3 linked regions of the Homo sapiens genome follow. The protein of the gene in region 1 interacts with the protein of each later gene in a biochemical or structural test. Each region holds a gene or a part of one and is shown in the gene's direction. Other genes may lie near its edges.

What was found.
Region 2: the proteins of XAF1 (region 1) and RNF166 form a complex in vitro, tested with the Homo sapiens proteins (one study listed by BioGRID).
Region 3: the proteins of XAF1 (region 1) and RNF114 form a complex in vitro, tested with the Homo sapiens proteins (2 studies listed by BioGRID).

The regions. Positions count from the first base shown.
Region 1 is NC_000017.11:6,773,007-6,776,257, forward strand, and holds the end of XAF1 (XIAP-associated factor 1), read left to right. Parts: intron 1-106; coding exon 107-163; 3' UTR 164-2,641; downstream 2,642-3,251. UniProt on the Homo sapiens protein: Seems to function as a negative regulator of members of the IAP (inhibitor of apoptosis protein) family. Inhibits anti-caspase activity of BIRC4. Induces cleavage and inactivation of BIRC4 independent of caspase activation.
Region 2 is NC_000016.10:88,699,732-88,703,480, reverse strand, and holds part of RNF166 (E3 ubiquitin-protein ligase RNF166), read left to right. Parts: exon of another isoform or gene 1-691; intron 692-2,062; coding exon 2,063-2,219; intron 2,220-2,530; exon of another isoform or gene 2,531-2,540; coding exon of another isoform or gene 2,541-2,861; exon of another isoform or gene 2,862-3,747; intron 3,748-3,748; coding exon 3,749-3,749. UniProt on the Homo sapiens protein: E3 ubiquitin-protein ligase that promotes the ubiquitination of different substrates. In turn, participates in different biological processes including interferon production or autophagy.
Region 3 is NC_000020.11:49,946,291-49,950,039, forward strand, and holds part of RNF114 (E3 ubiquitin-protein ligase RNF114), read left to right. Parts: intron 1-2,957; coding exon 2,958-3,065; intron 3,066-3,749. UniProt on the Homo sapiens protein: E3 ubiquitin-protein ligase that promotes the ubiquitination of various substrates. In turn, participates in the regulation of many biological processes including cell cycle, apoptosis, osteoclastogenesis as well as innate or adaptive immunity.

The DNA.
Region 1 (3,251 bases):
GCAGGGCTCATGCTCTGTAACAAGGGACAGCAATATCCAGAGATATTCTAGGAGCTAGCACTTCTTACTTTAACCATATCAAACTTTTTTTATATCCATTTCTTAGGAGAAATGCCGGTGGTTAGCTTCATCAAAAGGAAAACAAGTGAGAAATTTCAGCTAGATTTGGAAAAGGAAAGGTACTACAAATTCAAAAGATTTCACTTTTAACACTGGCATTCCTGCCTACTTGCTGTGGTGGTCTTGTGAAAGGTGATGGGTTTTATTCGTTGGGCTTTAAAAGAAAAGGTTTGGCAGAACTAAAAACAAAACTCACGTATCATCTCAATAGATACAGAAAAGGCTTTTGATAAAATTCAACTTGACTTCATGTTAAAAACCCTCAACAAACCAGGCGTCGAAGGAACATACCTCAAAATAATAAGAGCCATCTATGACAAAACCACAGCCAACATCATACTGAATGAGCAAAAGCTGGAGCATTACTCTTGAGAAGTAGAACAAGGCACTTCAGTCCTATTCAACATAGTACTGGAAGTCCTCGCCACAGCAATCAGGCAAGAGAAAGAAATAAAAGGCAACCAAAAAGAAAGGAAGTCGAAGTATCTCTGTTTGCAGACGATATGATTCTATATCTAGAAAACCCCATGATCTTGGCCCAAAAGCTCCTAGATCTGATAAACAACTTCAGCTAACTTTCAGGAGACAAAATCAATATACAAAATATGGTAGCATTTTTATACACCAACGACATCCAAGCTGAGAGCCAAATCAAGAATGCAATCCTATTCACAATTGCCACAAAAAGAATAAAATACCTAGGAATACAGCTAACCAGGGAGATGAAAGATCTCTACAACAAAAATTACAAAACACTGCTGAAAGAAATCAGAGATGACACAAATGGAAAAACATTCCATACTTATGGATAGGAAGAATCAATATTGTTAAAATGGCCATACTACCCAAAGCAATTTATAGATTCAATGCTATTCCTATCAAACTACCAATAACATTCTTCACAGAATCAGAAAAAAAAAGCATTAAAATTTATTTGAAACCAAAAAAGAGCCCAAAAAGCCAAAGCAATCCTAAGCAAAAAGAACAAAGCTGGAGGCATCGCATTACCCAACTTCAAACTATACTACAGGGCTACAGTAACCAAAACTGCATGATACTGGTACAAAAGCATGGTGCTGGTACAAAAGCAGACACATAGATCAATGGAACAGAATAGAGGGCCCAGAAATAAAGCTACACACCTACAACCATCTAATCTTTGACAAAGTTGACAAAAATACGCAATGGGGAAAGAATTCCCCATTCAGTAAGTGGTACTGGGATAACTAGCTAGCCATATGCAGAGGATTGAAACTGAACCACTTCCTTACACCATATGCAAAAATCAACTCAAGATGGATTAAAGACTTAAATGTAAAACCCCAAACTATAAAAACTCTGGAAGATAACCTAGGCAATACCATTCTGGACATAGGAACGGAAAAAGATTTCATGACAAAGATCCCAAAAATAATTGTAACGAAAGCAAAAATTGACAAATGGGACATGATTAAACAGAATTACCATTTGACTCAGCAATCCCATTATTGGTTATATACCCAAAGGAATCTAAATCATTCTGTCATAAAGACATATATACACAAATGTTCACGGCAGCACTATACACAATCGCAAAGTCAGGGAATCAAACTAAATGTCCATCAGTGGTAGAAAGGATAAAGAAAATGTGGTGGCAGGGAGTGGTGGCTCATGTCTGTAATCCCAGCACTTTGGGAGGCTGAGGCGGGTGGTTCACCTGAGGTCAGGAGTTTGAGACCAGCCTGGCCAACATGGAGAAACTCCGTCTCCGCTAAAAATACGAAAATTAGCCAGGCGTGGTGGCGAGCACCTGTCATCCCAGCTACTTGGGAGGCCTAGGCGTGAGAATCGCTTGAACCTGGAAGGTGGTGGTTGCAGTGAGCCGAGATCCTGCCACTGCACTCCAGCCTGGGCAACCAAGCGAGACTCTGCCTTAAAAAAAAAAAAAAGAAAATGTGGCACATATACACCATGGAATACTATGCAGCCATAAAAAAGAATGGGATCATGTCCTGTGCAGCAACGTGGATGGAGCTGGAAGCCATTATCCTAAATGAACTCACTCAGAAACAGAAAACCAAATACCACATGTTCTCACTTATAAGTAGAAGCTAAACATTGAGTACACATGGATACAAAGAAGGGAACCGCAGACACTGGGGCCTACCTGAGGTCGGAGCATGGAAGGAGGGTGAGGATCAAAAAACTACCTATCTGGTACTATGCTTTTTATCTGGATGATGAAATAATCTGTACAACAAACCCTGGTGACATGCAATTTACCTATATAGCAAGCCTACACATGTGCCCCTGAACCTAAAAAAAAAGTTAAAAGAAAAACGTTTGGATTATTTTCCCTCTTTCGAACAAAGACATTGGTTTGCCCAAGGACTACAAATAAACCAACGGGAAAAAAGAAAGGTTCCAGTTTTGTCTGAAAATTCTGATTAAGCCTCTGGGCCCTACAGCCTGGAGAACCTGGAGAATCCTACACCCACAGAACCCGGCTTTGTCCCCAAAGAATAAAAACACCTCTCTAAAAGCTGCTCTTCCACCTTTCTTTGGGTTCCGCACTGGTTTTCCAGGGCCAGGAATGGCAGCAGCCAGGACCCCAGGATAAGGGCAGTGCCCAAGGAAAGGGGAGCAGAAGACATTCAGGGAGGGGGAAAGAAATGAGGCTGGGACAGTGGATAAGGGCCAGGTGAAGGGGAGAGGGGCGGCTTCTGAAGGCTTTGGGCAGGGAGAGTGGCTGGGGGAAGCCTAGTAATGCAACCTATCCAGCGGCGGCTTCGGAAAAAACCCGGGGCTGGGTCAGGATGGGAAAGGCAGCGAACTGAACCGTTTTGAGCCCCAAGTTCGGGGCCGAATGTCTTCCCTGTGCGCAGAAGCAAGGGCGGGGGCGTGCCATCCTCACCCGGAGCGCCGGCCGAGCCTCCCGCCTCCCAACGCCTGGCCAGGGCCCCGTCTCGCCCTCTGCACATGGGATCCACTGACCAGGCAACTGCAGGTTTGGGGCTCTGCGACCCGGGGGCAGGAACAGAGCCTTGCAGGCGGCAGCGCGTCACAAAGGCGGCCGGAGCTTGGCATTTAGCTTGGGCCAGAGCAAGGCGCAGACCCGGGGCGCCCATGGAGTTGGCGTCGGAGCAACAGCT
Region 2 (3,749 bases), on another chromosome or scaffold:
TCTTGTGTCTTTCCTGAGTCCTTCCGGGGAGGACGAGGCTGTCTTCCTCCCAGCCAACCTTCTGGGCACCTTTCCTCTCTTCCCAAGCTCTGCCTGGGACCCTTTTCCTTCCCCTCAGCCCGTGGCCGTGCTGTGCAGCCGAGCCCCGGCCTGGTCTCTGGCAGCTCAGGGTTCACTCAGGAGGTGCACCATCCAGTCGTTTCCAGTGTGTTTGCAATTATGCAACAATCGATGCAATTCTAGAAGATTCTTCCCACTCCAGAAAGAAACCCAGGACTCTCCCCCTCGCCTGGCACCCACCCGTCTGCTTTCTGGTCACTGGGTTTCTCTCTGCTGGACGTTGAGCGTGAGTGGACCCCCACGACACGGGTGGGACGTGCTTGCTGTCTGCCCTGCACTGTTTTCCAGGCCTTCCGGTGCGTGGTGGGGCTGCACGCCTCTTCCCGGCCGAACGCCCTTTCCATGGGTGTGCACGCCACGCCGTCTCTTCATCCGTTTACCGACGGGCACCTGAGCTGCTTCCGCTTCTCCTGCCATGAGTGCCTGAGTATGGGGGTCCCCTGAGGCCTCCCCAGGTGGACCATCTTGCCAGCACCTTCCTCCCGTGAACGGGTGAAGTAGGCGGCCCCCCCGGCTCAAATCCAGGGGTCAGTGCCAGGGATGACCCTGGAAATATCTGCTGGGGCGCCTGGTGAGAACTCGGGTGAGGTGGGTAAAGTGAGCGACCTCTTTACTCTGCAGAAAAAGGCTTGTTCACTTTCTGACGGGTCTCAAGCTGAGTCCCGCTTTCTCTCACACGAAGTTTCATGTGGGAGCCACCAGCCAGGTGGTGGCTCTGTGGGAATCCAGTGGTGGCAAAGAGGGCCTGGGGGACAGCAGGAGGGACTTAAGATGCCTGCTTGGCCACCTTTGCCTGAGGCCCTCAGACTTCCTCCTTGCAGAAAGGGCCTTTTCTTGAGGGATGTGGAAATCTCTTGACAGCAAAGAGGACTCTGGCCCTGAATTCAGCTGAGTCGTTTGTGAACCCAGGGCCTGCCCACAGCCCCTCTGTCCAGTGGGGCTCCTGTACCAGCCCTGTGGCCTTGCCAGGGAGAAGGGAAGCTACACCCCCGGGTGCTGTAGCCTTCCTGGGACTGGGGGGCTCTGCCTCAGTTCCAGCTCCTCGCCGCAGCTCAGCTGTCCCCACAGTGCTCCTCACAAGGCCAGATGTGGCTGCCCCAGTATTAAGCTCCTTCTCTGTGTTTGCACTGGGGGCTCTCGCGCCTGGTGCTCCCACTGGCTGGTGGTGCACCCCTCCAAGGGCTGTGTGCGTCTGCAGAGCGGGAGGGTGTGCGAGCCCAAGGAAGCCCCTGCTGCTGGAGCCCGGAGTGCGCACGGGGCTGTGGGACGCTCAGTCTGTCCTCACGATGTGGTGTCCCCAGGGGCAGTGCCAAGAGCCAGGGCCCATGGGTGCCCAGGACCCGAGCCTCCGCCCAGATGGAGCAGGACCCCCTCCTGCCTGCGAAGCTGTCCCAAGCCTGGTGACTGCCACCCAGCCTCAGGATGTGCTGCCACTTGGCTAGCTTTGGCCCTTCCCTGTCCAGTGCATCTGGAGCCCCTGGGGCCTGGCCGTTTCCTTTCCCACGATTGTTTGAGGTTTTATCCCCCAGAGTGTGGAGCCGGGAGAGTTTCCAGAGTCCCCGGGCTGTCCCTGCGCCCCACAGCCCACCCAGGTGTTGTCGCCACGTGAACGTGAACCTGGTAGCCCGAGCTGGGGCCTCCTGCCTATGGGAGCTCCTCTGGCCCACTCGCGGGGACAGCCATAGTGACGGCTCTGCCGCTAGCCAGAAACCACAGGGGCCTACTGTCAGGAGGGACCGGGGCCACCCTTTAGCCAGATGGGGCCCATCCAGCTGGTGGGCCCCGGACATAGGAGTGACCATCTCCAGAGACGGCGACAGCGGTAGGGGGAGCTGCCCCTGTGGACCCCACAAATGCTGGGTCCTAAGAAGGGCCCCGAGCAAGGCCTGCGGTTCGGGAGACCCGAGGGGCGGGCTGGCACTCAGGCCCCTGTGCCCTGCAGGTTCTGCGGGGAGTGTCTCCAGCCCTGCCTGCAGGTGCCATCCCCGCTGTGCCCACTCTGCCGCCTGCCCTTCGACCCCAAGAAGGTGGACAAGGCCACCCACGTGGAGAAGCAGCTCTCATCCTACAAAGCGCCCTGTCGAGGCTGCAACAAAAAGGTACCCGCCTGCTTGGGCCGCCCTGGAGCCGGGGTCACTTGATGGGCAGCCTCAGCCCACGGGTTCTGCAGAGGGTGGGGGCCGGGGCCCTCTCTCTTTCCTGTTGAGTAATCGCGGTCTCTGCTCCTGCACCAGGAAGCCAGCCCCGGCGCCTCCCTCCCCTCCCGTCTTCATCTCTCACTTCCTGTGGTGACGGCTGACGGGGGGGCCAGCCCGGTGGGGGTAGCACTGTCAGAGCCGCCTAGCCCGGGCCAGGGGAACCCACGTGGGTTGTGGCCAGGGTAAGGACCAGGGGGCTGAGCTGAAACCTTCCCAATGCAGCCTTCCCCTGCCAGCCGATACCGGGGACGGCGCTGGGGGCTCCAAGGTCACAAGGGCCGCGGGCACAGTCAAGGACATCTAAGGGCCGAGCACCCTCCAGCTGCCAGGAGGGCCAGAGCCGGGCTGATGGGCACTGCCACACCCACATCAGAGCAGCGTAAGGGCCTGCAGCTTGTCATGGGCCTCATTGGCCCCCATGTCCATCCTGTCCTGGTGCCTGGCCCGTGCCCCGTGGCCCTCCCTGGCACATCCGCTTCAGGGTGGAGAGGCCCCAGCCAGCGCCCCGTTCTTTCAGTGGCTTCCGGAGGACTGAGCAGCTAGAGGTGATTTTGCATTTGCGTTTCCCGACGTTGCCACATCTCAGGTGAATAAGTTCTATGAAGCGCTCACACTAGTACGTGGCCCCTCGGTGGTTTGTCCTCGAGGTCGAAGGTCCAGATGTCCAGGGGCTGCCCTGGACTCCAGAGTGGTGCGGCTGAGCAGGCTGTGGTCTTGGGTGCTTGGGCACCTCCCGTCTCTCCCTGCTCAGAGTTCTTCTCTCCTGGGCAGCCAGAAAGGATCAGAACCGGTCACATGCAGAGCGGCCTCCCGTATCCCACAGCAGCTCCGTTCTCTAATCTGGGTCTTCAGATGCGGCTGTGTCTCCCGGCACCTTGCTGGAATGTGGTGCATCCCTCGGAGTCCAGCAGCCCTTAGGCAGAGCTGGGTGCCGAGCTTGAGTCCAGGAGGGCCTCAGACACCTGCGATCTTGCAGCCTGTTGCCCTGGACAGTGGGTGTGCTGTGGGTGGAGGATGGCGCCCTGCCTCCACGGAAGCATCCCCAGCTTGCCCCTCAGTCACACGAAGCGTCTGTCCCCAGCCTGGGGCATTTCTGAGTGGCCTCCACTTGGCCTCTTCCTTTTTCTGGAGCAAGTATTTGAACTCCTGCAGGCGCCAGAGATCTCCTTACCTGTTTCCCGCTACCCTTCTCCAGCCAGGTTTCTGCCCTCGGCCAGATTGTCCTGCAGTGACTTGCTTTTGGCCATGGAGTAGTGGCTGCTCAGTGCCTGAGATTGTTTTAGCAGCAGAAGGGACCGGGTCCCCCTGCTGCTGGCAACACAGACGCTTGCTTACAGTTCTCTGGTCCTGGACACCTGAGGTCTCGGCCTCCCCAGGACGGCCCTTCCAGATTCTCAGGACCGCCTTGCCCTCCCTGCCCTGTCTCCTAGG
Region 3 (3,749 bases), on another chromosome or scaffold:
AAAGGATCAAGCTTGGAGAAAAATGACGGGATTAGTAGAATGAACTCCTGTGTGCCCTTCACCTAGATTGACAGATTGTTAACATTTTACCATATTTGCTTAACCATGCTCTATAGTACACATTTTTTGCTGACCACTTGGGAATAAGCTACAGATACCATGACCATTTTTGCACCCTGAATACTTCGCACCCTGATACAGGAGTGTGTATGTCTTAAGAACAAGAATGTTTTCTTGGAAAATTATATTTTTGTGTGTATAATTAATCATATTCAAGAAATTTAACATTGATTCAATCTAATGTCTAATGTGAAATTCATGTTTTAATTTTAACAATTGTAATGTCTTTCATAGCAATTTCCCCCTCCCCCCAAGGCAGAGGCAGGGATGGTACACGAGTTCTCTGTCCTCTGGGTGCTACATTAAGTCATGTGATGTCTGTTGTTGGTAACATTAACTTGGTTCCCTTGGTGTCCACCAAATTTCTCCATGAAGCTGCCATTTTATTTTTGGAAGTAGCTTCTTCATAGTTGTGGGGAAAGAGGATTTAGGTGAAATTATTAGGAAAAGGCTTATCAATCCTTGGACATTTTACTCAGATATTACCTACTGGCATGTGTAGTCTCCTTTAAAAAAAAAAAAATGTAGGCTGGGCACGGTGGCTCACACCTGTAATCCCAGCACTTTGGGAGGCCAAGGCGGGTGGATCAGTTGAGGTCAGGAGTTCAAGATCAGCCTGGCTAACATGGTGAAACCCCATCTCTACTAAAAATACAAAAATTAGCCAGGCATGGTGGCGGGCGCCTTTAATCCCAGCTACTTGGGAGGCTGAGGCATGAGAATTGCTTGAACCTGGGAGGCAGAAGTTGCAGTGAACTGAGATCCTGCCACTGCACTCTAGTCTGGGCAGCAGAACAAAACTGCCCCCCCCCCCCCCCCCCCCCCCAAAAAAGTATTTGTTCCATCTTAGCAATGTGTTACCTTTCTCTCTCAATGTGATTGACAGACCAGGTCTTTTTTTATAGTTAGGTGTATACTTCCTCTATAGTTTTAATTTTTCCATTTATCTCATACTGCTTCTCTTGAACTACATACTCTGTTGTATGGGCAGCCTTCAGCTCCATTGCTGTAAACAGTGGTGCAGAAATTTTAGAATTTTAATGAGCTTTTGTGAGAGTACTAGGGCAGCTATCAATGCTCATCTTAAGATGGAACTGGCCATTTTGAGAAACATATCTTTGCCTGTATCTATGTATGTTTATAAGCTAAAGTCTTAGATACAGATTGACTTGGTTAAATGTTACTTGCACTCATAATTTTGTTGGATACTGTTATTGCTGAACTTTTCTGGTATGGCAGCCTAATTTTCTGTCTTTTTCCCCTCCTTTGGCTTCTGAAATCCCTCTGATTATGTTGTCTATGTTGAGGCCTTCTCTTCAGCCTTTGGCCCTCTGTTCTGTCTTCCTCTCCCTCTGCAAGTTTTTTTTTTTTTTTTTTTTTTTTTTTTTTTTTTTTTTTTGAGGCGGAGTTTCGCTCTGTCGCCCAGGCTGGAGTGCAGTGGCGCGATCTCGACTCACTGCAAGCTCCGCCTCCCGGGTTCACGCCATTCTCCTGCCTCAGCCTCCCGTGTAGCTGGGACTACAGGTGCGCGCCACCATGCCCGGCTAATTTTTGTATTTATGGTAGAGACGGGGTTTCACCGTGTTAGCCAGGATGGTCTCGATCTCCTGACCTCGTGATCCGCCCGTCTCGGCCTCCCAAAGTGCTGGGATTACAGGCGTGAGCCACCGCGCCCGGCCCTCTGCAAGTTCTTAACTCTGCGTTTCTCCCTTCCCTTTAGAAGCCATCTCCTTTTCAGTCTCTAGTCCCACCCTATGTTCTAGCTCCCCAGCTACAGCTGCCTGCCCACCTTTTCCACTCAGTCTTCTACCATTCCAGATTTCTCTCTTGTCAATCCCCTTTATCACTGTATCTTCCTTGCTGTGGGGTAGGGTTCCACCTTTAAGTGGGGGCACTTAGGTCTTCTCTCTCCCTGGCATGAGTTTTCTGCACTCACTGGTCTGGTTGTTTACATGTGTTGACAGTAACTGCCGCCTTCTGGCCTTTTCTCCGTGCTGCTGCCTCTCTTCTGGAGCACAATTTTTTTTTTTTTTTTTTTAAGACAGAGTCTCACTCTGTCACCCAGGCTGGAGGCTGGAGTGCAGTGGCACAATCTTGGCTCACTGCAACCTCCACTTCCAGGGTTCAAGCGATTCTCATGCCTCAGCCTCTCAGGTAGCTGGGACTACAGGCGTGTGCCACCATGCAAGGCTAATTTTTGTATTTTTAGTAGAGAAGATGTTTCACTATGTTGGCCAGGCTGGTCTCAAACTCCTGACCTCAGGTGATCTACCGCTTTGGCCTCCCAAAGTGCTGGGATTACAAGTGTGAGCCACTGTGCCCGGCCTGGAGCACTCTTTCATGTCCTCTTTGCCTTTCCAAATACTTCCCAATCTTCAAAAACCAAATCAACCTTTTGTGTGAGGGCTTTTCAGCCTGATCCCCCTCTTCTGAGCATTTCCTTTGTTAAGATGCATGTAAGGCTGTGTTTTACTTCCCTGGGACATTGCTCATCGGCTTATTTTCTTAGTTTTCCTCATGCTTTTGGATTGTCTTGTGTGCTGGATTGGAAGGCCAGTCTAGGCCCCCCACCAGGCTGACTCACTTCTCTGCTTACAGTAGGGAATGAGAAAGGGTGGTATCATGATTTGAACTTTACCCAGTCCCACGTGTCATTTGACTTGAGCTGGAAATTTGCAGTGTTTTTTTGGGCTGCTGATGTGCACAGGAAGGAGTTACTGGCCCTGGACAGTATGTCAGGAAAGCTGTCCTGGAAGAAAGGAGGCCAGACACAGGCCACAGAGGGCTGGTGCAAGCTTGGAAATTGGGTGCCTAAGACCTTGCTTTTGTGTTGAAAGGTTTGTCCGATATGTGCCTCGATGCCCTGGGGAGACCCCAACTACCGCAGCGCCAACTTCAGAGAGCACATCCAGCGCCGGCACCGGTTTTCTTATGACACTTTTGTGGTAAGTCTGGAGCCTGGGCTCTGATCCCTCCCCTGGGGGAGTGGCACGGCTACTTCACTCTTCTCAAAAGGGGAAATGGGGATCCCCAGTGTTGAACTTTGTCGCTGTTGTGATGGGCTTCCAGTCTGTATACTGGATACAGTGATAAAGGGGATTGACAAGAGAGAAAAGAAGACTGAGTGGAAGAGGCGGGCAGGCAGCTGTAGCTGGGGAGCTAGATGGGCTTCCAGTCTGTATACTGTAGCTACTATACAGTTTCTATTCATGGGCCAGGCAGGTGGCCAGAGTGACATTTATTTACTTACATGAGATGGAGTCTTGCTCTGTCGCCCAGGCTGGAATGCAGTGGCGTGATCTCAGCTCACTGCAGCCTCCACCTCCCGGGTTCAAGTGATTCTCCTGCCTCAGCCTCCTGAGTAGCTGGGACTACAGGCGCATGCCACCATGCCCCATTACTTTTTGTACTTTCAGTAGAGACAGGCTTTCACTATGTTGGCCAGGCTGGTCTCGAACTCCTGACCTCGTGATCTGCCCACCTTGGCCTCCCAAAGTGTTGGGATTACAGGCGTGAGCCACCACGCCCGGCCCAGAGTGACATTTAAGAAGATGATCTGGGCTGGGCGCAGTGGCTCACACCTGTAATCCCAGCACTTTGGGAGGCCGAGGTGGGCGGATCCTGAGGTC